Homo sapiens: one gene and its partners. The main gene of each other region encodes a partner of the protein of the gene in region 3 in a complex. Each region holds a gene or a part of one and is shown on either strand. Other genes may lie near its edges. The genes, in order: SNRNP200, SRRM2, CWC27 and RBM48.

What was found.
Region 1: CWC27 (region 3) and SNRNP200 share a complex: the UniProt entries of both Homo sapiens proteins name them as parts of the minor spliceosome.
Region 2: CWC27 (region 3) and SRRM2 share a complex: the UniProt entries of both Homo sapiens proteins name them as parts of the minor spliceosome.
Region 4: CWC27 (region 3) and RBM48 share a complex: the UniProt entries of both Homo sapiens proteins name them as parts of the minor spliceosome.

The regions. Positions count from the first base shown.
Region 1 is NC_000002.12:96,302,547-96,309,992, forward strand, and holds the start of SNRNP200 (U5 small nuclear ribonucleoprotein 200 kDa helicase), read right to left. Parts: upstream 3,001-7,446; 5' UTR 2,892-3,000; coding exon 2,847-2,891; intron 2,323-2,846; coding exon 2,159-2,322; intron 785-2,158; coding exon 613-784; intron 1-612. UniProt on the Homo sapiens protein: Catalyzes the ATP-dependent unwinding of U4/U6 RNA duplices, an essential step in the assembly of a catalytically active spliceosome. Plays a role in pre-mRNA splicing as a core component of precatalytic, catalytic and postcatalytic spliceosomal complexes.
Region 2 is NC_000016.10:2,747,834-2,755,650, reverse strand, and holds the start of SRRM2 (serine/arginine repetitive matrix protein 2), read right to left. Parts: upstream 3,014-7,817; 5' UTR 2,805-3,013; intron 2,746-2,804; exon of another isoform or gene 2,595-2,745; coding exon of another isoform or gene 2,545-2,594; intron 1-2,544. UniProt on the Homo sapiens protein: Required for pre-mRNA splicing as component of the spliceosome. As a component of the minor spliceosome, involved in the splicing of U12-type introns in pre-mRNAs.
Region 3 is NC_000005.10:64,799,917-64,806,938, forward strand, and holds part of CWC27 (spliceosome-associated protein CWC27 homolog), read left to right. Parts: intron 1-331; coding exon 332-411; intron 412-1,385; coding exon 1,386-1,416; intron 1,417-4,312; coding exon 4,313-4,470; intron 4,471-7,022. UniProt on the Homo sapiens protein: As part of the spliceosome, plays a role in pre-mRNA splicing. Probable inactive PPIase with no peptidyl-prolyl cis-trans isomerase activity. As a component of the minor spliceosome, involved in the splicing of U12-type introns in pre-mRNAs.
Region 4 is NC_000007.14:92,531,795-92,538,816, reverse strand, and holds part of RBM48 (RNA-binding protein 48), read right to left. Parts: intron 6,414-7,022; coding exon 6,268-6,413; intron 4,580-6,267; exon of another isoform or gene 4,416-4,579; coding exon 3,847-4,415; coding exon of another isoform or gene 3,733-3,846; exon of another isoform or gene 2,390-3,732; intron 2,384-2,389; coding exon of another isoform or gene 2,273-2,383; exon of another isoform or gene 1,967-2,272; coding exon 1,880-1,966; 3' UTR 1-1,879. UniProt on the Homo sapiens protein: As a component of the minor spliceosome, involved in the splicing of U12-type introns in pre-mRNAs.

The DNA of each region.
Region 1 (7,446 bases), on a different chromosome or scaffold from region 3:
AAGCTGGGGGTCCTCAAATTCAATTCCGTTCCAACACTAACTACCTGGAGATAGCGTCAGATCCCACAGACTGAGGACTCAGTCGCACAAGCCTGCCTCCCACTTCATGATGCCAGTCACAAGCACAGGTTGTTTGACCTGTGCTTCTCACTATACAGCTATAAATCGAGGTTTCCACAATCCCCTTTTGGGGTTCAACTAATTTTCTAGAGCAGATCAGGGAAACACTTATTTTTACTATAAGGCATATTACAAAAGATGCCTACCAAAAGACAACAGATGGAAGAGGTACACAGGGCAGGCATGTGGGAATGGGTGTGGCGCTACCAGGCCCTCTCAGGCGCACCACCCTCCAGAAACCTCCATGTGTGCAGCTATCCACAAACTCTCTAAACCTAGTCCTTTTGGGGTTTTTATGGAGGCTTCATTATGTAGGCATGATTGATTAAATGACCAGCCTCCATTCTGAACTACCTAAGTGCTGCCAGCCATCAGTCAACTCATCAGCATACAAAAAGATACTTAGCACTTCGAAGATTCCAAGGATCTTAGAAGCTGTATGCCAGAAAATGAAATAAAGACCTAATATATATTTCACAATATCACACTCACCTGGTCCCCAAGAGCAGCCTGGATGAAGCTGAGTAGCACCTCATAGGTCTCCCGAGTCTCTTTAGTTTTGGGCTTGTAGATGATGCCCACCATCTCATCAATGCCCTCCGACAGCAGAGTATAACCCTTCATCTTGTTGATGTCATGCCGGTCCTCATCACGCTTTCTTCGCCTAATGGACATGCAATGTGATATTGAATGGCAGAACCTTTCGTCCCCAAGGGAAGACTGGATCAAGCCCACCCTCCTCTCCTCAGCTTCATGGCAAGAAGTTAATATCTGAAAACAGGTATCTGAGCCTCAGCAAATGATTCCGTTTGGCCTTAATCACTTGCAGGAGTATTTCTTTATGGGACACAGTGACAAAAAGAAAAATTCCCTATCATCTTCTCACTAGATGCACTAAACATTACAATGAGATGTTTCTCATTTAAAAAATACAACCCTTTGGCCAGGTGCAGTGGTTCACGCCTGTAATCCCAACATTTTGGGAGGCCAAGGCAGGCGGATCACCTGAGGTCAGGAGTTCAAGACCAACCTGGCCAACATGGAGAAACCCTGTATCTACTAAATATACAAAAATTAGCCGGGCACAGTGGCGAGCGCCTGTAATCCCAGCTACTCAGGAGGCTGAGGCAGGAGAATCGCTTGAACCCGGGAGGTGGAGGTTGCCGTGAGAGAGATCACGCCACTGCACTCCAGCCTGGGTGACAGAGTGAGATTCCGTCTCAAAAAAAAAAAAAAAAAAAGTACAACCCTTCATACATTGTATGAGACTATTATATAATAGGATTTTGACTAGTTTTTCACCTCTCCAATGCATTTTCCCTTTCTAGCTAGAGAACCAAGCTCTAACAGAATCTACTGCCGTTGACTATCAACAAAGTATAACAAAACTGGAAAAGAAGATATAGCACAAAGTGGAGATAATGTATTAACTCATTTCAAACATAACTACTTTAATCAAACTAAGCCTAGGAATTTTGGAAACTTCATCATAGGAAAGGGAGCAAGACACCAAGATATTCAGGATCAAAAGATAATGATGAGGTAAAGGTAAGTTTTTGAAACATATCCCCAAGAAATCTTAAAAAAAAAAAATAAAGGAAAAAAATGCAAACTAAGAAAGAAACCTGTCTTTCATACTATGGATGCTTAAATTAGTTTGTTACAACAAAATAGGTAGAACGTGGACAAGAGTAAATGGAAAAAGTAGGGGTAGGAAGTTAGTAATGGGAAAAAAGGAAAACGAATTACTGGGACATAGGAATAGCAAGGGTCTTGAAAATACCCTGAAGAAAATTAAGATCTGTCTATGGACCAGAAACACACATGTAAGAAAAAGGTACCAACAAGTTATTTTCCACTTGAGATGCACTTGTTAAGGCCAAAAAATCTTTAAACTCTCCTGGTCTGTTTTTACCTTCACTGAATTGTTTTAATGCCACTGATCTTACACCAAGCATTCCAGCAAAAATGCTGCTCGAATGTTAAAGGGAAGAGACTTTGGATCTGAAGGAAAAAATAGTATCCCCTTGGCACTCACTTGGCTCTTCTTTCCTCCTGCATCTGCGGTTTGGTCCGTTGAGCCTTGTCTCCCATACGGGTGCCCTCCAGCTTCCCAACAAGGGACAGCACCTCTCCTGTGGGTTCATCCCGGCGGGTCCGGTCAATGAGAGAACGGTCAGCTTGGAGCACAAGATTCGAGTTCTGAAAAGATCAAAACATTATTGAAGCTTTGACATGAGCAGGGCCAATTCCTACTATCATAGTTACCCCAGCTGATGGAAAAAATCGTAGTAACTAGTTGCTTATCATCACTAATCGTAATAAAAATATATTTTCCTTAAGAATTGCATAGTATAACGCTGTGCAGAAGCGTACAGCTGAATAAGTCTTATGCGCTGTCGAATCAGCTAAACAATTCTTGTTCCTAACAGCGCCCATCATAACCCACACCTGTGAAAAGTAGTGAGTGGGTTGGGAGTGACGTGTGGAAGGGGGAGGGCTTAGCGTTGAAGGTACTCGAGAAACTCCTCCTAGAGAGATCTTAGCGCTCCCCAGACCCCAGTAGGTTATTCACGTCATCGTATAACCCCCACCTTCACCCCGATTCCATTTCCCCTTCGTTTTCGTGGCTCTCCTGTAGGCCTTCAGACTGAAACTCCCTTTTTCAGCCTCCCCCTCCCCATTGGACTCCTGAGCCTGGAATCCTTCCCCAAGACCAAACGCACCGCCTTGTACTCGTATTGCAGACTACGGGCGGTTACATCCGCCATGGCCGCGGCTGCTCGGAGGCTTCAGACCACCACGCCTCCCTACCGCAAGCTGCAAACGGCCGCAGATCTCTGCTCCCGCCGCGCCGGAACGACGCAGGAAAGACGCACTGGGGAAGGAAAAGAAACGGGTTCCCTTCCGCTTCCGGGTCGCGCCCCAGAAGTGCGGGGCGGGGCGTGTCTGGGGCGTGTCCCTGCCGTGTGCGCGCGGCTTTCCGCACCCTTCTGAGCGGGATATGTGGGCCTGGTGCGTCTGGGTCCCCGAATCCCTAGACCCCCGCACTCTGGTTCTGGCCGCCCGCTGGCACTAAGGACCCAGGGCCCGTGCTCTCCCCGACCTCAGTCTCCAGCCCCCGGCACCCCTCACATCATAACGAATGCACGGCTGCTTAGCCCCTGTCCTGTCCCAAGACCTTTCCTTCCGGTTCCTTCCTCTTTGGCAACAGTCCCATGAGGTAGGCAGGAAAAGAGGGGCCGAAAACCCCATTTCCGTTTGAGGTAACTAAAGTACCCAGCGAGCAAGGTGACTTGCGCGTGTGTCTGTGTTTGTGTGTTTTAATGATTGGCGCCTTGCTTTGGGTTTCTCTTCTGTGTTCAACAATTGAAAAAGAAAGCTACTATCCCCCACCAATCCCACCTAAACCTGTGCCCCCAAGACCCTCGTTTTCACCCAGCTGAACGAACAGGGCCGGGGCCCCCATTTGCTCCCACTTGTCGGTAACATTCTATGGTAGGGCCCTCCCTGCCGCCCAGGGAAACCGGTGAAGGCAGGGCCAAATCCTTGGTGACTATGACTTAATTTCTTCCCCAGCTACAAAGTCTTCTCTGTCCCACATTCCCCACCACTTCTCGCCAGTAGAATGGCGCCTTATGGCTGAAGGTGACCTCCCTCCTCACTTAGAGCATGTTTGCTTTTGAGAAGATGAATGAACAGGAGGATGGGTGTTAAGCCAAAGGAATTCATCCTCAATAGCAGTCCCCTAGACCAGATTTGTTCTGTAGTGGTATCGTGTTTGGCTCACTGTTGGCTCCTTCTTTAAAAATTGGGATAATTTCATGCAAACTCTGGCTCTCCCCCATCAGTTGAGATACTAGAAAATCAGCCACATGACACCCACACTGCTGCATGGCATGACCTGCTGCTGGTCAGCAGCTGCCAAGGTCAGAGAATAGGCAAGTCCTTCCCACTGCTCCTGTTTTCTCATGCCTGCCCATCTCCTTATTTTTACTTGCCCAGCCCCTGTAGGCATGGAGTTTGCTGCTTTGGTGGGTGTTTGTTTTTTTTTTAATAACTCGTCTTCCCAAGGGACAGTCGAGTCCTCATGGCTCTGCTCCTCAGTGGCTGTGTGACTTTGAAGTAGCTAGCTACCTGGCCTCTCGGTGAGCACCATTTTCCTCATCCTTAAAATTGAGGCAATTGGCTGGACACGCTGGCTCACGCCTGTAATCCCAGCACTCTGGGAGGCCAAGGCAGGCGGATCACTTGAGGTCAGGAGTTTGAGACCAGCCTGGCCCACATGGTGAAACCCTGTCACTACTAAAAATACAAAAATTAGCCAGGCGTGGTAGTGGGTGCCTGTAATCCCAGCTACTCAGGAGGCTGAGGCAGGAGAATCACTTGAACCTGGGAGGTGGAGGTTGCAGTGAGCCGAGATCAAACTCTGCACTCCAGCCTGGATGACAGAGTGAGACTCTTTGTCTTAAAAAAAAAAAAATTGAGGCAATAAAACCTTCCTCCCATTGTGATTAAATGGGATAGTGTGTTTAAAAGCACCTAGCAAAGTGCCTGACTCAAGGTGGGGTTCACTGAAAGTTATTGAAATCTGAATCCTTAAGGCTGACTTTTATTCCATGATCAGGCTGTGGCCCACCCACCTGACACGAAAGGGTCTCAAAGGTATTTCGGAGATTCCACTCTGTTTCTGTAGAAGTAGCATTCATGTTCACAGATGCAGCTGGGCTGTGGGCAAACCTGTGAAGCAAGAAAAAAAGGAAACTTTCCCCATCTTTTCTTTTCCTCTCTAATCAGGCTCTACCAAATGTAAATCCTGCATTTAGTCATTCAGATGGACTTATAAGTTTCCATAGTATGTTAGACCTGGTAGGAGCCTTAGAGATGGAGTAGTCTGGTTCCCTTATTTTCCACAAGAGGAGACTGCAGCCCTGGAACAATCGTCACACTAAAATGTAAATAAGGAAGAAAATAATTATGATTTTGAAAAGAAAACAACAGGCTGGGTGTGGTGGCTCATGCCTATAACCCCAACACTTTAGGAGGCTGAGGAAAGAAGATTGCTTGAGGCCAGGAGTTTGAGACCAGCTTGGGTAACATAGTGAGGCCCTGTTTCTACAAAAAATTAAAAAGTAGCCAGGCCTGGTAGTGTGTGCCTGTAGTCCCAACAACTTGGAAGGCTGAGGCAGGAGGATTGCTTGAGCCCAGGACTTCAAGGCTGCAGTGAGCTAGGATTGTGCCACTGCACTCCAGGCTGACCCACATAGCAAGACTCTTCCCTCAAAAAATAAAAACAATTTTTAAATTAAAGATAGAAAAGAAAAATGACAGCCGTGCTTCCTCACTCTGCGGAAGGGGCTCAGGGAAACTTCCTGGGCCAACTTGTTGAAAATGGGGGAAGGTGTCTAGTGAAGACAAGTCAAAGGAGTCACTGCCCCACATGAGAAAGGAAAGAGGAGCTGGGGTTAGACTGGGATGTAGAAAAGGGAAGAGAAAAGTCTTCAGGAAGCAAGAGAGGCCCAGGAAAATGACAGTCAGCCAGGACCTAAAGGAGCCACAAGCAAAGAGAAATTTATTTTACTTTTTTTTTTTTTTTTTTGAGATGGGGGATCTCACTGTGTTGCTCAGGCTGGAGTGCAGTGGCACGATCATGGCTTACTGCAGCCTCAATCTCTTCAGGCTCAGGTGATCCTTCTACTTCAGCCTCCCAAGTAGCTGGGACTACAGGCACACACCACACCCAGCTAATTTTTTGTATTGTTAGTAGAGATGGGGTTTTGGCATGTTGCCCAGGCTGCTCTCGAACTCCTGGGGTCAAGCGATCCACCCACCTCAGCCTCTCAAAGTGTTGGGATTACAGGCTGAGCCACCTTTCCTGGTCTGGGCAAAGAATTTGAACAGACGTTTCTCCAGAGAAAATATACACTGGCCAATAAGCACATGAAAAAATGCTCAACAGCCATGCGTGGTGGTTCACCCCTGTAACCCTAGCACTTAGGGAGGCCGCGGCGGGTGGATCACGAGGTCAGGAGTTTGAGACCAGCCTGGCCAACATGATGAAACCCTGTCCCTACTAAAAATACAAACATTAGCTGGGCGTGGTGGCGTGAGCCTGTAGTCCTAGCCACTCGGGAGGCTGAGGCAGGAGAATCACTTAAACCCAGGAGGCGGAGGTTGCAGTGAGCTGAGAGCATGCCATTGCACTCCAGCCTGGGCAAAAAGAGTGAACCTCCATCTCAAACTAAATAAATAAATAAAAATAAAAATTAGCTGGGCATGGTGGCACATGCCTGTAATCCCGGCCACTCGGGAGGCTGAAGCAGGAGAATTGCTTGAACCTGGGAGGCAGAGGTTGCGGTGAGCCAAGATCGTGCCATTACACTCCAGCCTGAGTGACAGTGCGAGACTCCTCAAAAAAAAAAGAAAGTTAAACATAGAGTTACCCTATGACCCAGCGATTCTACTCCTAGGAATCTACCCAACAGAACTGAAAACATGTCTACATAAACATTTGTACACAAATGTCCATAGCAGCACTACTCACAATAGCCAAAATATTGCAACAACCCAAATGTTCATCAGCTGATGATGGATAAGCAGAATGTGCTATTTCTATACAATACAATATATTATTCAACCACAAAAAGCAATGAAGTACTGCTGTGTGCCACAACATGAATGAATCTCAAAAACATATTAAGGCCAGGGACAGTGGCTCATGCCTGTAATCCCAACCCTTTGGGAGGCTGAGATGGGCAGATCACTTGAGGTCAGGAGTTCAAGACCAGCCTGGCCAACATGGTGAAATCCTGTCTCTATTTTTTATTTTTTTATTTTTGAGATGGAGTCTTGCTGTTGCCCAGGCTGGAGTGCAGTGGCACAATCTTGCCTCACTGCAACCTCCACCTCCTGGGTTCAAGCGATTCTCCTGCCTCAGTCTCCTCATTAGCTGGGATTGTAGGTGCGCGCCACCACGCCCAGCTAATTTTTGTATTTTTAGTAGAGACGGGGTTTCGCCATGTTGGCCAGGCTGGTCTTGAACTCCTGACCTCAGGTGATCCACCCGCCTCGGCCTTCCAAAGTGCTGGGATCACAGGCGTGAGCCACCAAGCCCAGCCCCCTGTCTCTATTAAAATACAAAAATTAGCCAGGTGTGGTGGTGCACGCCTGTAGTCCCAACTACTTGGGAGGCTGAGGCAGGAGAATTACTTGAACCTGGGAGGTAAAGGTTGCAGTGAGCCGGGATCCTGCCACTGCACTCAAGCCTGGGCGACAGAGTGAGACTCTGTCTCAAAAAATATATATTAAATTAAGGCCTGGTGCAGT
Region 2 (7,817 bases), on a different chromosome or scaffold from region 3:
CAGGTAAGGGCCATTTCCTTGATTCCAAATATTTAAAGATCCTATCAACTATCCTGATATTTTATTCCTTCAATTTCCTTCCTCTCAATAGGATTTACAACAATTTGCAGTTCCTCCCTGTCTTGCCAGCTGTCAAATATTACCTGTTTTCAACTCTGCTCTATTTAAACACATCAAACCAGCCTCCTCTGTTCCAACCGTTCCCATACCTTCTCCATATACCTTGCCCTAAATCTATGTAGAAACCCTCTCTACACCCCACTTTCATTAATGTCCAACCGTTGGCTTTCCCCACCAATCCCCTGGATAGCACTTCCTAGTTTTTCTCTCTCAGCCCTGCCTCTTCCTTCTCTCCTGTGTTAACCCCATGCCTCCTCCCAGGTTCTAGCCTTTCAACTTGTCCCAACCCTAACGTGATTCTGAAAAATTCTCAAGTCCCAGCTTTCCTGGTTAGATTCCTTGGCTACACATACTCTATTCCTTTCTCCTATTACATATACTCTCTTTCTCACCCTCATCCTCTCCAAGATAGTTTCCTAGAACATGCATATATGAGAAAATACTACTAAGAAAAAACCCTAAGGAATACGTAAAGCGGAGAGAGTAATCAAAGATGTAAAAGAACTGGATAGAAGGGAAGGATGCATTTAGAAAATTCCAGAATGAAGAAGCATCATACAAATGTTTGGAAAAATATACTAGCGCATGCGCCTAAGGATGGGTCCCTACCCAAGCCCAGTAGCAGACCCAATATTGAAAGCAGAAGGTGACAGAAGAGGCTAAACCTGGATAAGGCAAGCAGAAATCCAGGAAAAAATGAAAAACTGTATGGCTCAAAAAATCAATTTCTCTACACCCCAATCCTCATTTTCATCTTCTAGTACCAATCCTCCTCACGGTTTAAAACTAGGTCCTTCTTCGCCTCTCCCCTACCCCACTTAATTTCTGCTTCCCCTGCAGCATGTTTTTGACCTGCACTTAATTCTTCAGCTTAACCATTCACCCACACTTCCATACCACCTCACACAAAAATCCCCCCACTCCTTAAGAAAGGAAAACCAGGCCGGGTACGGTGGCTCACGCCTGTAACACCTGCACTTTGGGAGGCCGAGGTGGGCGGATCACCAGATCAGGAGATTGACACCAGCCTGGCCAACACGGTGAAACTCCATCTCTACCAAAAATACAAAAATTAGCTGGGCGGCGGCGATTGCCTGTAATCTCAGCAACTCCAGAGGCTGAAGCAGGAGAATCGCTTGAACCCGGGAGGCGGAAGGTTGCAGTGAGCCGAGATCGCGCCACTGCACTCCGGCCTGCCAACAGAGCTAGACTCCGTCTCGGAAAAAAAAAAAAAAGAAAAACCAGTAGGTGCTAAGCAAAGGATATTAGGTCACAATGTTTCGGAGAACTTTTAGGGAATGAGCCACCTAGTCCACCCCACAAAAAAAGACGACGACCCCACGGCATCTAAGGGGTGTGTTAAGACACAGAAAGTAGGAAGATCAACACCACACACAAATCACCAAACCAAACGATATTACAAAACTCTTAAAGTGGGGGCCATAGACAGTGGATATGCAAAAGTTACCCAAGTTAAAAGCAGAAAGTAAAAAGTACAAAGGAAGACAAAAACACCCTTTTCTGTTGGGAAATTATCCGAGTGGTAAGCTAACAATGAAGTAGAAAGATATATTTGAATTCAACAGTAAAATATGCAAAAAAGAAAACGGTACCAAAAGGGGAGAAAAAGGGGAGACAAGGGTTGTCGAAAAAAATGGACATCAGCAAGCACAGCCAGCTCAGCACCGGGGCGCTCCAGAGCGGCTGAGTGGACACAAAGAACCCAGAAAGCTAAAATAGTAGCTTTAGAAGAGCCCTAAGCCCACGCACTTAGGATGAAAGACAACACAACACTCTGAAATTCTGATCCAGATTCGTCCTAACTGAAGCCGAGTGGAAACCAAGCTTCAGAAGAGCTGTGTGCCAAAGAACGCCTGAAACCAACCAGAAAACTTATATATGAGTCTGGCGTTTTCTTCCCAACGAAGGTCTCCAAAAGCCTCCTTAGTTTGAACACGAATTCTCGGGAGACGTTGAAAAAGTGTAAAAAGGGAACGCACGGTCTACCTTACAAATGTAAACTGAACACGTTCACTTTCTTCACAGTTTTTAAGATTTGGGGTTTCTCCCCGCCACTAACAACTCAAAGGCTGATAGCCGGGAATCCTAAACCATTTAAATCCGGCCCACGAAGTTCAAGGCCCTCCCCGCAGCGCCGGGGGCCTATTTTCGGCCTTGCGGAATGGGGGAGGGGGCTGCGCGGCGTCCCGCAGTCTGGGAGGCCCCCGACACGGGCAGCCCAACGCCGAAGAGAAGCCCGAGGAAAGGAGATCTGGAACCGGGGGCAAGGGTCCAGGAGCAAGCCCCCCGCCGCCGCCCCTTCCCCGCCACTTAAGGGCCGAAAACGGCAGCTGCAGGAAGGCCACCTCGGCGGCACATGTTGGGGGGAGGAGTGAAGCCGAGGCGCGCGCCCTCCCCCCTCACCAAGGGCGCTCGCGAACCCGAGTACAGGCGGCTGCGAACGCCGTTGTCATGGGGGAGGGGCGGGGGGGGGTGAAGCCCGCGCGCGACAGGAACGGCGGGAAGGGGGAAGGGAGGCGAGGGCGTCCGCGCCAGCGAAGGGCGTCGAGCGCGCGTGCGCGCGGAGGAGCTCGGCGGCCTGGGCAGTTCTCCGCGCGCTTTGGCCTCGCGCCGGGGCCGCCGCCCCTCCCCCACCCGGCTCGCTGGCTCCCTCACCCTCTCACCCGCCGCCTCCGCCCGCCGCCTCCGAGGGGGAGAGGTCTTGCCGCCGCCGCTGCTCGAGCTCCCGAGTCCCTCGGGCCTGGGGCCGCCGCCTCGCCTCGCCGGTCCGCCCGCCTCAGCCGACGCCGACGCCTCCTCGCTTCCTCAGGGGCCGCAACGGGCTCCAACTGCGCCACTCGCACCCCGCCTGGGCCGCGCTGCACGTCAGCACGACTAACTGCGTGCGTCAGCACGCAAACGCGCGTCGCGGGGCCTGCCGGGAACTGGAGTGCGCCCCGCGGCCTTTTGCGCAGGCGCCGAAGCCACACCGCGAAGTACCGTTTTTTCAGGCACAAGGAAGGTTTCACCCCGTTGCCGAAAGACTAAGCGTCCCGTTGGCCAGTGCAACGAAGAACGGAGGAAGCGACGTAAGACACCGCGTATTCGTAGGCCTTCCGCTGCGGGGAGGAGCACAGGGCCTAGCGGCAGCAAAGCGACGCCCGAGCGCGTCTCGTCTCCCGCTGTCGATGCAGAGCATTCTGGGAGTTGTGGTTCGGGCGTGTCGCGGAGCCCGGATGTAATTTCGGCTCGGGGCGTGGCGGCCATTTTGTCTCCCCATGTTGGGAGACGATATCCCAGCCGCGGTGGTGCTGCCGCTTTCGTGTGACTTTGGGTTTCCCGAGCGAGCCCGCAGCTGCACAGCAGTCCGCCTTCCCGTACCCGAGAGAAGCCGCCTCAGACCCCAGCCAGCGGGCACCCCCGGAGGCCCCGAGCCTGGCTGCAGGCCCTAGACCTGCACCAGGGGCCCAACCAGTTACCCGTAGCATGGGCCACGTTCTCCCGCTGTAGACCGGGCTGAGGCCCGACGGCCACCCCTGGGGGAGGAGTTTTCTTAGCTTCCGGTAGGGCAGCCAGGCCGGGGTCCCACCAGACCCAGGACGTGATACCGGTGAAGCGGCACATACAGGAACAAGGCAGGAGGAAAATAATAAGCACCTTAAAGTTTCCACTTTTCGGTACCGTACTTCCTGTTAATGTTTCTAAGCCCGTGATTCTGGGCCTGATAATCAGCCAGCCGTCCTCACAGCAGAGTTGTAAGACGCTGGGCTGCTCAAGCACAAGTTCATATCTAGACCCACCGCTGGCGAGCAGCCCTGGACGTCCCGCTTAGCTGTCCTAACCAACTCAGGTGGCCTTGATCCGCAACAGGACGCGGTACCACGTAATGAACTGTCCATTTGAGTGCAAGGATTTATATTTGTTATTACGATTTGGGGGTGTTTTTAAGAGGCAGGGTTTTGCCCAGGCTGTTCTCGAATTTGGGGCTCAAGCGATCCTCCGACCTCAGCCTCCCAAGTAGCTGGGACTACCCGTGCATGACACCCTATCTGGCCCTTGTTTTTTGTTGTTGTTGTTGTTCTTTCTTTTTTCACGTGGTTTCGCACTTGTCACCCAGGCTGGAGTGCAATGGTGTGTTGTCGGCTCACTGCAACCTGTCTCTCAGGTTGAAGTGATTCTCGTGTCTCAGTCTTCCGAGTAGCTGGGATTACAGGCGTGTGCCACCACGCCTGGCTAATTTTTGTATTTTTAGTAAAGACGGGGCTTCACTATATTGGTCAGGCTGGTCTCGATTTCCTGACCTCAGGTGATCTGCCCACCTCAGCCTCCCAAAGTGCTGATATTACAGGCGTGAGCCACCACGCCCGGCCCGTATCCGGCTTTAAGATTTGTTTTTCACTTGCCCGTGGGAGGATGTACTTATCTCAGATGCTAGAGCCGGGAGACCCTCCCCCCCACCACCCCCATCTCCTGCAGGAGCTCTGATCGCAGATTGGAGTGTCTGAACTCTGCATCTATGGACGGTGCTTCTGTAAGCCGGCCGCAACTCTGGAGTGGCATAGTAAAGTGGCAAAGGCTTTGCCTTTCTGGTTAAAGACCCCAGCACCTCCAGTGAGACCCTTTCCTGTACCCCCACTGATATTCTTTATGGAATGTTTTGTGCGTGAGTCAGCACATTTAATGCCCGTGAATAGTGACAAAACATGGTTTGCAGTACCCTAATGACTGATGATGCTGAGAATCTTTTGATGTGCTTGTTGGCCGTTTGTACATCTTTGGAGAAATTTCTCTTCGTGTCTTTTGTCTATTTTATTTTTTTGGGACAGAGTCTCACTCCTAACCCCGGGCTGGAGTGCAGTGGCACGATCTCCACGCACTACAATTCTTGTACCTCAGCCTCCCAAGTAGCTGGGATTACAGGCGCACGCCACCACCCAGCTCATTTTTTTATTTTTAGTAGAGGTGGAGTTTTTTGTAGAGATTGTGTCTCCCTGTGTTGCCCAGGCTGGTCTTGAACTCCTGGGCTCAAACTGTCCTCCCCCCTTAACCTCCCAAAGTGCTGGGATTACAGGTGTGAGCCATGGCACCCAGCCCTAGAATGATTTTTTAGTTTCCCTTTAAACTTTATTTTTTTATTCACTGTAGTGTGGTGGACGGTGGTGCCCCAAAACTTCACAACCACCTAGACATTCGGAAGGTGACCTTATTTGGAATAAGAGATTTTGCAGATGTAATTGAGTTAAAGATCTGAAGATGAAATCATCATGAATTTAGGGTAGGCCGTAAATCCAATGACTGACATCCTTACAAGAAGACAAGAGGACACAGGCACCCGGGGGAAGAGGCCGTAGGAGACCCAGGCAGAGATTCGGAGCGGTGCCCATGCCAGGGATCTCCAGGAGGAGCCAGAAGCTGGGAGAGGCCCTGCAGATCCTCTCCCAGAGCCTTTGGAGGAGGCACAACCCTGTCCACACCTTGGTCTCCACTTTCTGGCCTCCAGAGCTGTAGGGGAACCCACTTCTGTGGTTTGAAGCCACCAAGTTCGTGGTGACTTATGGCAGCCCTAGGAAAGTGACATGCACAGGTAAACCACATTCACTGCAGGAAATATACAAATCAGCAAAAAGAAAAAAAGCACACAGGGGCACCACCCCCAGAGACAGCCATGGCTGACATCCTAGCGGCTGTCACCTCGGAGTGATGTTCCTAAAATGCAAACTTCTGAACTGCTTAAAACTCTTCCAGACACCCTCAGGTTGACATCACAACTCCTTTGTTGGGCCTTCCAAGGCTGGTCCTTCCCGTGGCCTCTTTTCCCTCCGCTCTGTGACAGTCCATGACGGGCACACTTGCCTATGCTTGTTCTCCCAGGCAGTGGCCTTGTGTGGGCCTTCAGCTTCCAGTTCCATGGCCTGGTGGAGGACCCTGTGGTGCAAGCCTTCCTCCAGACCCCCCTGGCCTGGGGCCCAAGACTGGGAAGCCTTTGGTGAGTGGAGCACCTCCCATTTGCACACTGGCTTCCTGGAGCTTACATTACAAATAACTAGACAATTACCAGCCAGGACAGGTGCTAGGGAGGATGGGAACAGGGTAGGGGGGTGAGGATGATGTCTGCAAAAGCATCCTGCCCTCCAGAGGGAGACCAGACCTTCAGGAAGGACAATCCCTGGGGTTAATGCCATAGCCTCCCACCTCCCAGCTGCCTGGGAGGGTTTCTCGAATTACCTTTTTATCTGGAGACCCCAGCCCCCATCCAACCCCTCCCACAGGGCTGCAAGCAGGGTCTCTTGAGAGGCCTTCTGGCTTCCAGGCCCCATGTGTGCTCCCAGCCTTCTGGGCAGGATGGACTGAGGCTGGTCCTCAGCGCAGGCATGGTGGGGCACACGGCAAGCAGAACAAGTGCCTGGGCCCTCTCTGTGCAGTACCCAGACCCCAAAAGTACTTGGCTCTGAACCTCTGAAACATGCCCTGGTTCCTGTACCCAGGACAAGCAGATATGAAACACTGGAAATGAGTGCCGGGAGGAATGGCCTTCCACGTGCAGCTGGCATGGCCCATGTCCAAGCCACTTCAGCGGCTCTTTCTGGCCTTGGTGTAGCACATCTGGTGAGGTCGATACTGTCCAGCCACCCCTTTCTTTTCTGGAGGGGGAGGAGGGATATTCTTTGTGATGTAAGGGTTTAGAGAGCTTTTAAAGCACTAATTGGGGCCAGGTGTGGTGGCTCACACCTGTAATCCCAGCACTTTGGGATGCTTGAGGCCCAGGAGTTCAAGACCAGCCCTGGGCAACATAGTGAGACTCCCCCCACCACCTCCCATTTCTGAAAAACAAACAGAGAAAAGCACTCATTTTATTTTCTTTCTTTTTTTTTTTTTTTTTGAGACGGAGTCTCGCTCCTTCGCCCAGGCTGGAGTGCAGTGGCGCGATCTCGGCTCACTGCCAGCTCCGCCACCCAGGTTCATGCCATTCTCCTGCCTCAGCCTTCCGAGTAGCTGGGACTACAGGCGCCCGCCACCATGCCCGGCTAATTTTTTGTATTTTTAGTAGAGAGGGGGTTTCGCCGTGTTAGCCAGGATGGTCTCGATCTCCTGATGTCGTGATCCGCCCGCCTCAGCCGCCCAAAGTGCTGGGATTACAGGCGTGAGCCATCGCGCCCGGCCAAGCACCATTTTATTTTCTTAAGATTCCTAGTCTCTTTGAAAGAGGTTACAGTCATAAATTTACAAAGTTTCTTTTTTGTTGTTGTTGTTTTTTGGGAAGGAGTCTCGCTCTGTCACCCAGGCTGGAGTGCAGTGGTGCTATCTTGGCTCACTGCAAGCTCCGCCTCCCAGGTTCATGCCATTCTCCTGCCTCAGCCTCCCAAGTAGCTGGGACTACAGGCACCCGCCACCACGCCCTGCTAATTTTTTGTGTTTTTTTAGTAGAGACAGGGTTTCACTGTGTTAGCCAGGATGGTCTCCGTGTCCTGACCTCATGATCCACCCGCCTTGGCCTCCCAAAGTGAAATTTACAGAATTTCAAAGCCTAGCACAATGGCACACCCGTGATCCCAGCTGCTTGGGAGGCTGAGGCTGGAGAATCACTTGATTGAGCCCATGAGTTCGAGACCAGCCTAGGCAACATAGCAAAACCCCATCACTACAAAAAGTAAGTAAATTATGAAAATCCAATTGAATTATGACTGCCAAGCTTGACG
Region 3 (7,022 bases):
AGCTTCTAAGTTATAGGGGTCATAAAAATTAACTAGTTTCATAGTATGCAAATTATTATGAGAATTTAGTGCTTCAAGTTGGTAATTCAACAGACTTCTTTTAAATGATATATCATTTTTTGAAAGAAAAGGTGTTTCTAAAATACTATTTTCAGTCAATAGAAGAGTAAGATTCTTACTTATAAAACTTTAGTTTGTATTAAACTTTTCAGGAATACATCTTTTGCTAACCATATTATATCATTGCTAGGTTTTATGTAAATTTGTTAACTTGTTATTTAGGAATACTGTTTATTTCCCCCCTCATGATTATATTGTACATTCTTTGCAGAGCATGAAGGGCAAAAGCAAAAGTAGTCATGACTTGCTTAAGGATGATCCACATCTCAGTTCTGTTCCAGTTGTAGAAAGGTTAGTCCATTGTTGGTATGATCCTAAGTTCTTAATTTTCTGGCTCAGATAATTTTCTTGCTTCTTCTGTGAGTAAACAGTCAGTCCTCATAAGTCAAAAATTTTTAAGCCAGCCAAAAAAATAAAGCATTTTGATAACAGAGATAGAGAACTTCAAGCTTGATAGAGAGAAACAAACGCTCTAGTCACTTTCGCACTTGCTCTCTACCTCTGTTGAATGAATTACATTTAAAATTGTTTTACCATTACATGTTAGGACTAGAAACTGTTTGCTTTAACAGTGTAATGCTTAATTCAAGGTTGTTTTGCTACCTTTTCCTTGAAGCATTTTTGCCTTAATTGTATCATGAATGAACAAATTACAGTTAAAGGTTTTTGTGAAGAAGTTACCAGTTTGGGGGCCAGTCCACTGACTATAAATTCTCACATACTTTGAGGAGTTAACAGAAAGTTGTCTTGCTACCTTTGTTGCTTCTCTTTGAGAAGGGAAAACGTCTTGGTGTTAGATGTAATAGCACAAGATAAACTGGGCCAGTATCTCAAGGGGCACTACAATGCTGTTGTACTCAGTTTAGCTCATTTTCGAAACTCCTGTTTTAAGACAATCTTTTCTTAATACCCTTCTATTTGAAGGATTTGGGGGTTTTTTTAGTCAGAATATTTCAAGCCAATAAAAGAAATTGTTTTTTGCAGACCATTGATCATAAAAATAACACTGTCGGTTGTTGTTTGCTTTTTTCCTTTCAAATTCTAGTGAACGCATATATTTGCTAATGAATCATACTTATTCCACTTATAAAAAATGACTCTAAAGAATGTTTCCATCTGTTCTATAATGCCTTTCTTAAATTCCTATGTTGAAATACATTTTTGGAATGTTATTCCCAGCAAACTATTCTAGATTTTTGGGTTACAAAATAATTGTGTTAGTTTTACCTTGAAACTAAAATTTGTTTTGCTTATTTTTTTTATAGTGAAAAAGGTGATGCACCAGATTTAGTTGATGTAAGTATTTATTTTGGTATTAATATAGTTTGAACAATTCATAGAAAGTACAAAATTTTTACAAAAACTTAATTTTGTTCTTAAAAAGTAACGTATATTACTTTTATAGTTATATATGTCAAATTTTGGAAAAATATGAAAAACAGAAATTATTTAGGTGTTAGACTATTTCCTTACTCTAGGGGTGTGCGTGTGTGTGTGTGTATATCTCTCTACAACATTAGAATCTTATATATGAATTTCTAGTCTGTTTTTTTCTCCCCCTCACATAACATTACGTTAATACTCAAACTTCAGATGTTATAAATTTATTGTATTAAAAGTTTAAATATTGGTGTGTGGGCATCCTACATGATATATGGGAAATGCTTGGATCAGTAATTTATAGTAGTGTCTCCTTTTTATATACACATTTCAAAAGATTCTCATTCAAGAGTGTAGTGATCTTTATTAGTTGTAGTGGCTAACAAAGCTAACAAAACAGAAGGAAGATTTTCCTTTAATACATAAGAGTCAAGTTTTTCAAATTATACATATGCCACTTTTTATATAAAAACCCATTAATCTGTGCATTGTATAATTTACTAGGAAGTACATAACTTTCCATGCATGAACACAGATTTATCTATTATCACAGTCAAAAGAGAAGGCTCTCTATGGCTATCAGTAGTAGATAGAGAGAGGATGAATATCTGACCTTGTCAAGAAAAGCTTCCTGGAAGAGATGATGCTATTTATGTCTTATATGAGAGTTAGGAGTTAGCTAAGTCAGAAAAGAAAGTGATGAAGGGGGTGAGGTCCCTCTAGCTCAGAGAATAGCATATGCTAAAGCATGGAAATAAGGAGAGATCATACCTTATTTAGGAAATACAAACGGAAATTTAAAGTTTCAAGGAGTCTGTCTTGTGAAGAGCAAGGAAGAAGAGTATTGAAGGTAAGGGGAACTGCATATACAAAATGGTCCGAAGCAGGAGAGTTTGGTGTGTTCTAAGAGCTGCAAGCAGGCCAGCGTGAACAGGGTGTGGTGACAGGCCAGAGCTTCATTACAGAGCTTCATAGGCCATGGTGAGGGGTTTGAGTTTTTTCCTAAAAGGAAGTGAGGAACAGTTGAAAGGTGTTTGTTAAAAAGAAGGATGCTATGATCAATTTTGCATTTCAGGAAGATCACTATTGGCGATATTATAGAGGACAAATTAGAGGAAACAGACTGATACTGGGAAGCTATTGTAGGAGGAGAGCTTGATATAAGACCACAGCTGTGAGATGGGAAAGAGGTAGATTTGAAAGAGGTCTAGGAGGTGACTGATTCTACACTATGAGGTGAGGGAGGAGTAGTCCAAGACAACCACAAGGTTTCTGGTTTGAGCAACTTGTTAGATGGGTGCAAAAGAAAGCATAGGGTTGAGGTGGAGAAAAGGATGAAAAATAATGAGCTTAATTTTATACATTTCAAGATTGAGGTAATTTGGAGACATCTGTGTAACATAATATGGGTCTAGAAGTTAGGATCAATGTATAGGATAGAAAGTAAAAGTATAGATTTGCTCTTAATATCATGGGTGAGTGACTAAAACTGTGAATCCTTTCCCAGGAAAATGTACTACATTCACAACCAAAATTATATGAATTTGCAGGGAATTTTTTTTAGATCTCCTGAGGCCTGAGCATGGAAGGCCTAGGTTGGTGGTTGTCACCTTTTAGTGCTTAAGAATTACTTAAACATCTTGTTGAAAACATTCGTAATTCCTACCCCAGAGATTTTGGTTCAATAAGTCTGCAATGAGGGCTAGAATTTTAGGTGTTAATAAACAACTATGTAATACCATCTAAGGACCAGACTTTGAGGACCAGTGCTTTAGGGGTCCACAAGTCTCAAATTAAGAATCCTGCTTCACTACGACTCACCAGATCAAAGAAAGAATCACAAAAGAAAAATGATCCACTTGGGGTTATTTCTTCCTTCTTCTCTCCCCTCTTTCTTCCCTTTGTTCCTCCATCTGTCAATGCTGGGCACTATTCTAGGAGTTGAAGATACAGCAGTAAGCAAAACAGGCCAGAATTTTAGCTCTCATGGAGTGTTTGCTGTAATTGGATGACAGACAATACACATGCAAATAATTAAAATATATGGTGTATCAGATAGGTGATAAGTACTTTGGAAAATAAGCCAGGGAAGATGAAAGAGTACTGGAGGTAAGTGTGTGGTTCTACCATTTTAATAGGTTAATCTCATCACCAAGAGGGTAACATTTGAGCAAAGATCTGAAGGAGATGAAAGAGCAAGCAATGAAGAGATATCTGGAATAGAGTATTTGTTTCAGGCTGGAGAGAACAACAACTCCAAAGTTGGCTAGTGTTGGTGGGCTGGAGTTGTAGGAGATTATGTCAGGGAGGTTTAGATTGCATAGGGCCTTGAGTGAGTTGGGGACCCACTAGAGGGTTTTCACAAGAGAAGTGATTGCTGTGACTTGGATTATAGAAATCTCAGCTTCTGCACTACACCTCTTCTACTTGAATTGATCCCTGTTGAGGTCAGTATGCTGGCCAACTGCCTTCAAAAGCCACATTTCCCACTGAGATAAGAATAGGAATATAGACAGAATAGCCCGAGTGACACAGAGGGAGAAGTCTGCTGCACAAAGGAGCTGGGCATGAGTTGAGCGAACAGCCTTTCCTGGGGTATCCCATAATTACATAGTTGGCTTAGAGCAGAACCCAGGGCTATTCCCACCTGTAGCAGATTCTTCAAGGGCTTATAATTCAAAACAAAAGAAAACAAAATAAAAAAAAAAACCTAGTTTAGAATGCAATAAGGAGATTCAGTGGATGCAATAGATCTCTAGAAATGAAAGGGGAAATTGAGCACCTGGCAAATACTCATTTTCCATTTCTACAGGATGGAGAAGATGAAAGTGCAGAGCATGATGAATATATTGATGGTGATGAAAAGAACCTGATGAGAGAAAGAATTGCCAAAAAATTAAAAAAGGACACAAGTGCGAATGTTAAATCAGCTGGAGAAGGAGAAGTGGAGAAGAAATCAGTCAGCCGCAGGTGAGTCAGTTACTGTGCTAGATATCAGAGTTTTTGTCTTTTTATATTTCACTTTAATTCAGATTGAATCCTCTCTTCAGCTAATTTTTAAAATACTATTTTCATAATGTTTGATAAACATAACAGTTGTACAAATTGGCCCATTAGCAGGCCTAAAATAAAATACACCAAGCTTAAAGTAAACATAACAATGATCCTATGAGTTCAATTCCATTTTATTTCTCTCTGATCCTTTTTTAGAAAGGCTCTATACTTTCATATATATAGGGTAATAATGTATTAGCTAGATGTGGAAGAATGCATTTGTTAAATACCAATGAGAGCAGTAGAGTAATTGTATAGAAAGAAAAGAGACATCCTCAAATAATTTCGGTAAGCAAAATTTGTCAAAACTGATGAAGAAAATGAGTGAGCCTGAAAACATTCTTAAATATCTTTTCAAGTCTGATTTACCAAATACCATATACCTATCCTAAGCTCAGTAGTATCATAAAATAAATTTCAGCAAATGGTGAAAAGTTTACTGTCTGGTGATGAAAGTTTGTTGGATTTATGACTCAACATTTTATTCTCCTGAAATTCAACTTAATTGAAAAATTATCTCTTTTGTGATTCTATTTCAACTTTATAGTATACATTTTAAATAATATTGCTTTAAAAAACAATAGTATTTGTTTTCTTCAAATACTATTTGGGGATAATATGAATGTAACTACATTTAAATAACATTCTTTTTCCCTATCATGTTTCTCAACCACATGTAGAAAAACTTAAAAAGGATTTCCACGCTATCATTGCATAGCTCCCTCAATTTTTTCTTTATGTAATCAAATAAAAATGATTCCCAGAAATTTCCACTAAAAGCATAGCTTTTAACATTTAGAAATGGTACTTAGGAGTCATCTTAAATGTCTTTTTTCCAGCAATATTCACCTGACACTCAAGTAATCACTGTTGAATAATTTTACATACTAGATTATATTATATATACCATACATAGTAGCTAATATAGACTAAAGATTTTAGTGATCATATGCATGCTTCTAGATTCATAGAGTTGAAAAACCTCTCATTCACACTGTAACTTTTAGTTAAATCATGAATATAATTATGGATACATAATGTTTTATTCCTCTCATTCAAGGCATGTGTTTTCTGATTTTAAAAAATTATGAATTTTTTTAAAGGTTAGGTTTATAATGTAACAAAAATATATTTAAAAATTTTAATAGATGAGCCAACCAAATATTTATTTATGTTAGATTTAAGTGTTCCTTAAACTCCCAACTCAGTCTTGTAGGCTTTAATCAATTTCAAATACTTATATACCCTATAATATAAACTATAATTTAGCAATGCTAAATTTTGTATAAGAACTAAAGTTCATTTTTAATGTACCTTTCATAAGTGTCTTTAAAAAATTGTTTACCTAATATTAAGAAAAGTCAAAGTTTGCATTTTCCAAAATTGTGTTCACTCTTACAATTAAGGGTTATTCTTAAAAGATTTCCTTGGCTGTAGTATGGGCCTGATGACCAAACATGGCATTGATAGCTAGATTTAGGAATCTGATCTATCATGAGAATACTGGAGAGCCACTGAAGTTTTTACAGGCAAATGATATATTGAGATTGTATTTAGTATGGAGAATGGATTGATAGAGGAGTGTTTTGGGCTATTATACAAAATACCATAGACTGGATGACTTAACAGACATTTAAAGCTTAGTTTTTATGGTAATTTCTTACATAGGAACATATATATCCACTTACTTATGTAAACAATTTTTCTCTTTTTATAAATCAGTATAATTTGCAAAATTAAAATCACATAATTTGTATATTCACTGTAGAGGAAAAAGTTATATTCAAGTGCATTGCAAGTCTACTAAGAAAATTAAATAAATTTAAAAAGTACGTTAAATACTTTTCTACTTAGAAAAGTAAATTAAATAAGAAGTCTCCAAAGGTGGCTTGAATATTTTAGGTAAACATGAGTATTGTGGACATTGTTGGATTCTTTTAGGTAAAATAATTGGCAAAGTGTGCCTTTGTAAATGGTGCAGACAGCACACATTTATTTATAACTGTTCTGTTCCCCCACATTTTCATTATTCACATTCTCTACTCTCCCTCCTTCATCCTATCTGTCCTACCTACAAAGAGAAACAAAAGAAAAATAAGGTCAGGATAGAGGAGAAAGTACAGAATTTCAAAAGGAAGAAACAGTTTTTTCCTCTAGTGTAGAAATTTCCATGATTGTCTCATGACCACGTATTTTTTTCAGTTCATAAAGTTGCCAAAATCAGACCCTGGCATGGTGGCTCATGCCTGTAATCCCAGCTGCTCAGCAGGCTGAGGTGGGAGGATTGCTTGAGCCTAGGAGCTCTAGGCTGCAGTGAGCTATGATCCTGTATGGGCAACAGAGCAAGACCCTGTCTCTAAAAAAATAAAAATAAATTTTAATAAATTTCCAAATCATTAGTACTTTTGGTTATTTATACCAGCGAGTCTCTGAAGTTAACTTTATGGTTAAAAAATAAAACAACACAG
Region 4 (7,022 bases), on a different chromosome or scaffold from region 3:
AGAACTCTTTTCATCTTCCAAAACTGAAATTCTATGCCCATTAAACCGTAACTCCTCATTTTCCCTCCCCACAGCCCCTGGCCACCACCACCACCAGAATCTGCATTTTAACAAGATCCTGAGGTGGAGATCATAGCAACTTATAGTCTGAGAAGCCTGAACCAGACAGCAATTTGCTCCTTCCAATTCTATGCTTAGGTCTCTAATATATCCTTTACCTGAGATTTCAGCAAAAACTGTATCTAATTACCTCACATGGAAGTAGGGCCTACCCTCCTTATCTGCAGCTTGCTGTTAGTACCATCTACCACTTGGAGCCATCCTAGTTAATTTGGATCAGTGTGAGGAGAGAGGCCATTTCTCTTCCTGTCTCCCATCTCTGAAGAGGAGGAGGGAGTAAAAGCTGAAAAACAACAGGAATGGAGCCAGTGGCAAAACCAACCGACGCCACTGACCAGGCCTGAGGTTAAAGATTAACCCCCCAACTCTAACCATGTGTTGCCTATAGATCACTTGCTCCGTCTATCACAACCCTTTCACGCAGACCCTCTTACAGTTGTAAGCCCTTAAAAGGACCAGGAACTTTTTCTTCAGGGAGCACGGTTCTTGAGACACAAGTCTGCCGACGCTCCTGGCCGAATAAAGCCTCTTCTTTCTATAACCTGGTGTCTGCGGGGTTTTGTCTGCAGCTCGTCCTGCTACAAGTACATCATAGCTGAAATTGAACCTTATTAACTGGTATGTTCAAATTCAATCCACTAGGCAAGAGGCCATTAAAGATAGGGAGAAATGAAAACAACACACCACGGTATGGACCTTCTCAAGTTATTTTTATCAGTAAAGAAAATGGCCAGGCACAGTGGGTCACACCCATAATCCTAGTACTTTGGGAGGCCGAGGTGGGTGAATCACTTGAGCCCAGGAGTTCAATACCTGCCTGGGCAACACAGTGAGACCCTGTCTCTACTAAAAATAAAAAAAGAAAAAGAAAATAGAGACAGTCTAGATGTACTGAAATTTCCAATTATGTAATCCACTGACAGAAAAAAGTGTGGATATGCCAGAAGTAGTAACAGAAGTCTAGAATTTATAAATACTGATGTATTTTTGGATTGCCACAGGTCAAGCAAATTCTTAAAAGTTATTTAAAGCATATAAGGTTCTAATTTCAGCTTTGTTCTAATAGCTAATCTACTTTTTACTTCATAGAATTGTCTTGATTTTGAAACCCTGGCATTCGGAAACATCCTGACTTCTAGTGTTTCAATGGTTCATTCAATACTTGTATTATAATTGGAAACAGACGCTGGCTGCCTATCTTTATTTCTATTGTAAAGTTTCCATATTTGCTTCAATTAATTTACATATAATTACTGTACATGAGAGATAATGTTATGACAAGAATAGTTTCTGCAACATTAAGTATGGGTCAAAAAAAGAAGAAATGGGCCAGGCGCGGTGGCTCATCCCTTTGGGAGGCTGAGGCAGGTGTATCACAAGGTCAGGAGTTCGAGACCAGCCTGACCAATATGGTGAAAACCCATCTCTACTAAAAAAAACACAAAACTTAGCCAGGCATGGTGGTGCACGCCTGTAATCCCAGATACTCAGGAGGCTGAGGCAGGAGAATCGCTTGAACCCGGGAGGTGGAGGTTGCAGTGAGCCGAGATCACGCCACTGCATTCCAGCCTGGGCAACAGAGCAAGACTCCATCTCCCAAAAAACAAAGAAATGACTTTAGACAAATGGCTTGAATGAAATTACAAAGAGGAGTGCATTAAAAAATACCAGCAGTAAAATCTCTTGAAGAATTAAAATGACAGGCTAAAAATAAATAATAAATGTTCTTTTTAGAAAATACTAAGTTGCTGCTGGCACTCTATATTCTTCTTCTTTGTTTTAATGGATGACTTGTATGTACATCTTCTGGCTTGTCCTCTGGAGGCTTTGGCACAGATGAAATTACCTAATTAAAAAAAAAAAAGAACCATTAAAACTTAGTTTCTATAGCACAGGAGTAAATAAGCTATTAGAAGAGGTAAGACTACATCCAATAGTTCAATCCTTGATGTCACTTTCGAGGCAGAGTTCGCCTAAGTTCAAGGTACAGCCTATGACCTAGGCACAGAGTGGAGTCTTCCATTTGAATACTGATGACAGTAAAATTTCTAAAGCTATTTAAAAAGAAAAAAAATTTGGAGGAAGAAAAGTGAACATATGCTCTACTTTAACATTCCTTTATAGATCTAAAGACACTTGTTATATTACGGATTCAGATAGATATCCTGGTTTTGCATTCTTGAAACACTGATAACGTTTGATAGATTTGGGGGGATGAAAACCTTTGGAGAAATGAGCAGGAAGCAGTATAATCCTCAATTTCCTGGAGAAAAAGGAAAAGCAAACACACCATCAGAAAAAGAGTGTACAAAGAGTATACAATAAGTCAAAGCAAAGTAAGAGTCTTCATTTGAAATGGAAAATTATTAGAAACTATAGTAAACTGTATTTAATATCTTTTTTTTGTTGTTCTATTTCTGGACCTAGAATTTGGACTTCACACGTTTATCTTGAAAATGTAATCAGCTCTGGTTGAGACAGGTATGTATCTATGTCTATGCCTCAGTTCAGCTGTAACTGAAGGAAGGAAGTAAGGGTGGCAGCACAAACTGAAAACCTTTTTTTTTGAGACAGGGTCTCACACTGTCACCCAGGCTGGAGTGCAGTGGCATGATCTTGGCTCACTGCAACCTCCGCCTCCCAGACTCAAGTACCCTTCCACCTAAGCTTCCCAAGTAGCTACAAGAGTTCACCACCACGCCTGGCTAATTTTTGTATATTTATGGTAAAGATGGGGTTTCATCACATTGGTCAGGCTGGTCTCAGACTCCTGGGCTCAAGCAATCTGCTCACCTCAGCCTCCCAAAGTGCTGAAGTTATTGGTGTGAGGCACTGGGCCCAGCCTAAACTGAAAAGCTAAAGAAGGCTTCAAAACTGTGCCCACGGATTTTAATTATTATTAAATAATACCTTTAATCAGATATTTTTAGGTAAAAAATGTACATATATGAAATTAAACTACCTTAGCCTCCCTTAATCACATTGTAAAATATGAGTAAAACTATGTGAAAAGCAGTTTCTGCATCTTGGAGTAAGTATAAGAGAATGTCATAACCCTCAGTTTATGATTTGTAACAGTAGTCCCTACCCCACAAAAAGGTGTCTTTCAAAAGCTAACTCAGATGTTAACTTCATTTGTGCTTAGGAAATGGAAAATGATTATGTAAATGACATTAAAAAAAAAAACAGACTACCTAGGCAGCACAATCTGATCCCGATCATTTAAGAAGTCTACATTTGAAATGCATACCTGGAGGCCTAATTTTTAGAAATCTCACCACCTTCTATTGCTCTTTATCACAAAAGCAAATTAAGCATTTTGAATTTGATATAAACTGTAATAACTCTAAATTTGAGAGAAATAATTTACAATACTTTTGCTTCTCAACTTTGGCTCATATTAGAACTACCTGGGGAGCTTTTAACAAAAATGGCAGGCCTGGGCTCCACTCTCACAGATTGATTTAATTGGCTGAAACCACTGCTTTAATATTTTGTATCTACAGTGATATAAAATGTCTGTTCATTGTTTAAAGCAAGTATTAACAGTTTAAAGCAAATAAAATGTTAGCCAAATTCAGTTATTTCAACAGAGAACTGTAGAAAAACACATCAAAACACTAAAAAGTGAAAAAAAATTACAGTACTATTGTTCCCACAAATAATTCTCCATTTAATCCTATAACCAAATCGTGTCTTAGAATAGTTTTTTAAAAATAACCTTACCTCTTTAAGTTTATGCCGAATTAAATTCGCCGTTGTATTCAATGAGTCATCGTGCATATCCACTTTAGAGATGTCTGGTAACAGAGGTCCAATCATAATCTCATTACCAGTTGGGTTTGTTTGAAGAAAAGTTCCAAGTTTACGATCATCTTCTCTTCTTCTTTTGCGCTCCTGCAGTTGTGTTGTCCTAGGCATAAATCTGTCAACTGCCTCTGAAGACGTAATAGCCTTTTGTGCACCAGGGCAGGCCACTGAGTTTTTCAAAGAGTTTATCTGTGTTTTCCGCAAAGAGTCATTGTGGTTATAATGCCCCATTGTTTTATGATGGTTTCTACCATCCTTAGAGGAGTCTGGTGCTCTGTCTACAGGTCCCCCGGATGAACACATACATTTTGAGGAGAAATAACATAAAGGCAATTCACAGGAATACGGAAGATAAGGATTTGAGTTCCCTGCAGAAGTGTTCAAAGCAGCTTTACAAAATCCAGACATCTCTGAGTGGAAGTCTTGTCTAAAATCCTCTGTGTCTTTATGCTCTGTAACCAATTTCTTCTTTGTCACGTAATGGTCTTTATATTACAATTTAAAAGTTGAGGGAAAGGGAAACAGAAGTGGTTTATTGTTTTCATCATTCAGAATCATATAATTTAAAAAAATCACTTAAAAATGTTAACAAATTCTACTCCAAAAAAATCATTTCTTGAGAAGGGTATATATTCACATGGTTTAAAACCTAAAACGGATAAAAAGATATATAGCATCAAGTGTCACCCTTTCCTTGCTCTCCATGGGTCTGGTTTCATCCCCATAAGTAATCACTATTGTTTTTTATTTATCTGTTCAATATGTCTCACTTTGCCACCTCCTTCCTCCCATTTTCTCCCCACTTTAAGATAACCTGTAATACGCATTTCTCTGCACCTCTGCATTTTCCATTTCACTGTAGATCTTACAGAGGTTTTTCATCATTATATAGAAAGGTTTTTTTTTTTTTTTTTTTTTTACAATTTCAGAGTATTCCACTATCTGGATGTATCATGCTCCTTGGCTTGTGTTTGTTAGTCACTAAAGAAAGCAATATGCTTGTCGCACTTCTAGGGCTGGCAAGGGCCTCTTCCCTGGTTTACTCTCCCAAAAGCAGATTACAACAGGAATGGAGTATGGAAGATGTGGTAAAGATGAAATTGGCTATGTGTTGATGATTGTTAATGTTAATATTAATACATGGGAGTTATGTTAACTTAGTCTCTCTGCCTGTGTGTTTTGAAATTTCCATAATAAGAGTTTTTGAAAAGTAAGACCACGTATACAAATGCATCTTGTAGAGGCTAGAATGCTGCAGATGAAAGAGAGCTTAACTAAAGTGTCCAAGGCCAAACAAGTCATAGTTTAATTCTGAGGTCAGCAGCACAGCAAAAAGGTCTTAAGAGGAAGGGGAGCAAATAATGAAGATAATCCTAGGCTGTCACCAACACTGAGATGATTAAAGCAGTTAAAAAGTAAACTCTGGACAGAGTCCAAAGCTTGGGTTTTAACCCTTATTTTGTCTTTAATTCATCTCTAATAATATAGGCAGGTCACAAACTTTCTGAGACTTAGTTTCCTCACCCAGAAAAATTAGGACCCAGGTCAGATAATGTCAAAGGTCTTTCTCCACATTAATATTTTATAATTTCCTTTGCCACACAAACATACAAGTTTTCCTGGTGCTATTTATTTACTTATCTTACAAGTTAGAGTTCAATGTCTGCAGATGACTGGGGATTCTCAACAGCTCTCTTACCAGATTTCTGAGTAAGTTTTCCAAGAGTTTTCCCACTTTATTTCTCTCCATCACTATGTGGTAGAACAGGCATGTGGGGGCATTTAGCCAATTGCTGGTCAAAAGTAGAACTTCTCCATGATTAGCAGTGACAACTATATGATTTGACAACTGCAAATCATAACTGCTTCTCACTGCATTCTGGTCAAAGCCTTAATTCCTTAGCATGGGACACAAGGCCCTCCATGATTCACTTCTTACCCACTTTTCTAAACTTATCTCTCACTGAAACCTTTGGGCTTTGGTTATACTGTATTAATTAAAGTTCCTTAAATGCATGATGCTCATTTATTCCTCTAAACATTTAAACATCTTGCCTGGCTTGCCTTTCCATCTTTTCCTCTCCCATTTAGTTAACGTCTACTTATCCTTTAAAATTCAGCCACTTCTCACATACTATAGGAAGTCTTCTATGAACCAATATTTCTCCCTTCTCAACCCAGATTATGTAGTGTGCTGCAGAGAACCCTGTGGTTCACAGTTACTGAATACTGTGATGGTTTACTTGCCTCTCCTACCACTAGACTGGGAATTGCATGATGACACACCTGGCAGAGTGCCTGACACACAGGAGGCATTTAGCAATATGCTTTCCATACCTTTATTTTCAGTAGTTTTTACTACATATGCCTTCCGCATTTGTAGTTTTTTTCTAGTTTCTTCAACTGTTTCAAATTCTGGAGCATAGCACACATGAAGCAATCCACCGAAGAAACTCTGTTCATCCATTTTTCTCTTGGCTGTCCTGAATGGAAATACAAGATAGCATAGTTTTTTAATCTAGATTTACTTGGGATGAAAGCTTAACTAGTATGCAATATCTGGATCTAAAGAGCAAAGTCCAGCTTTTGCTACGTGTATATATATCCTGTGGATTGGGAATTAAGATGCTCTGCTTGTGGACAGTATTCATCCCATTGATCGAGTATGTACTCGTAGAGCCTCCCCTTTCCTTCCCTTTGAGCCTCTTTGTTCCCTAGTCTTTAAACAACTAAGGACCCAGCTGGTTGGCCTGAAGTATGTAAACTGTGGTCATAAAATGGAGCTTTTCTCTGTGGCCCTGAAGAGTTGGTTCATACCCAATTAAGCTTTTTCAGCACTATGTATTTCTGTGATGGGATTCATGCCTTAAAAATCAGATGAAAGATACTATAATCATAAAACATTCAATAACTGAGGAACTATTAAATATATAACAATGAGAAAATGAGAAGAATGTTATTCAGTCAATAAATACTTACTAAACATCTATGACTGGCCAGGTACTACAATAAATTTAACTACTTCTATATCCAGGGATAATGATAAATACTTGTTGAGATTTCACCATATGCCAGGCAATGTCATAAGCGCT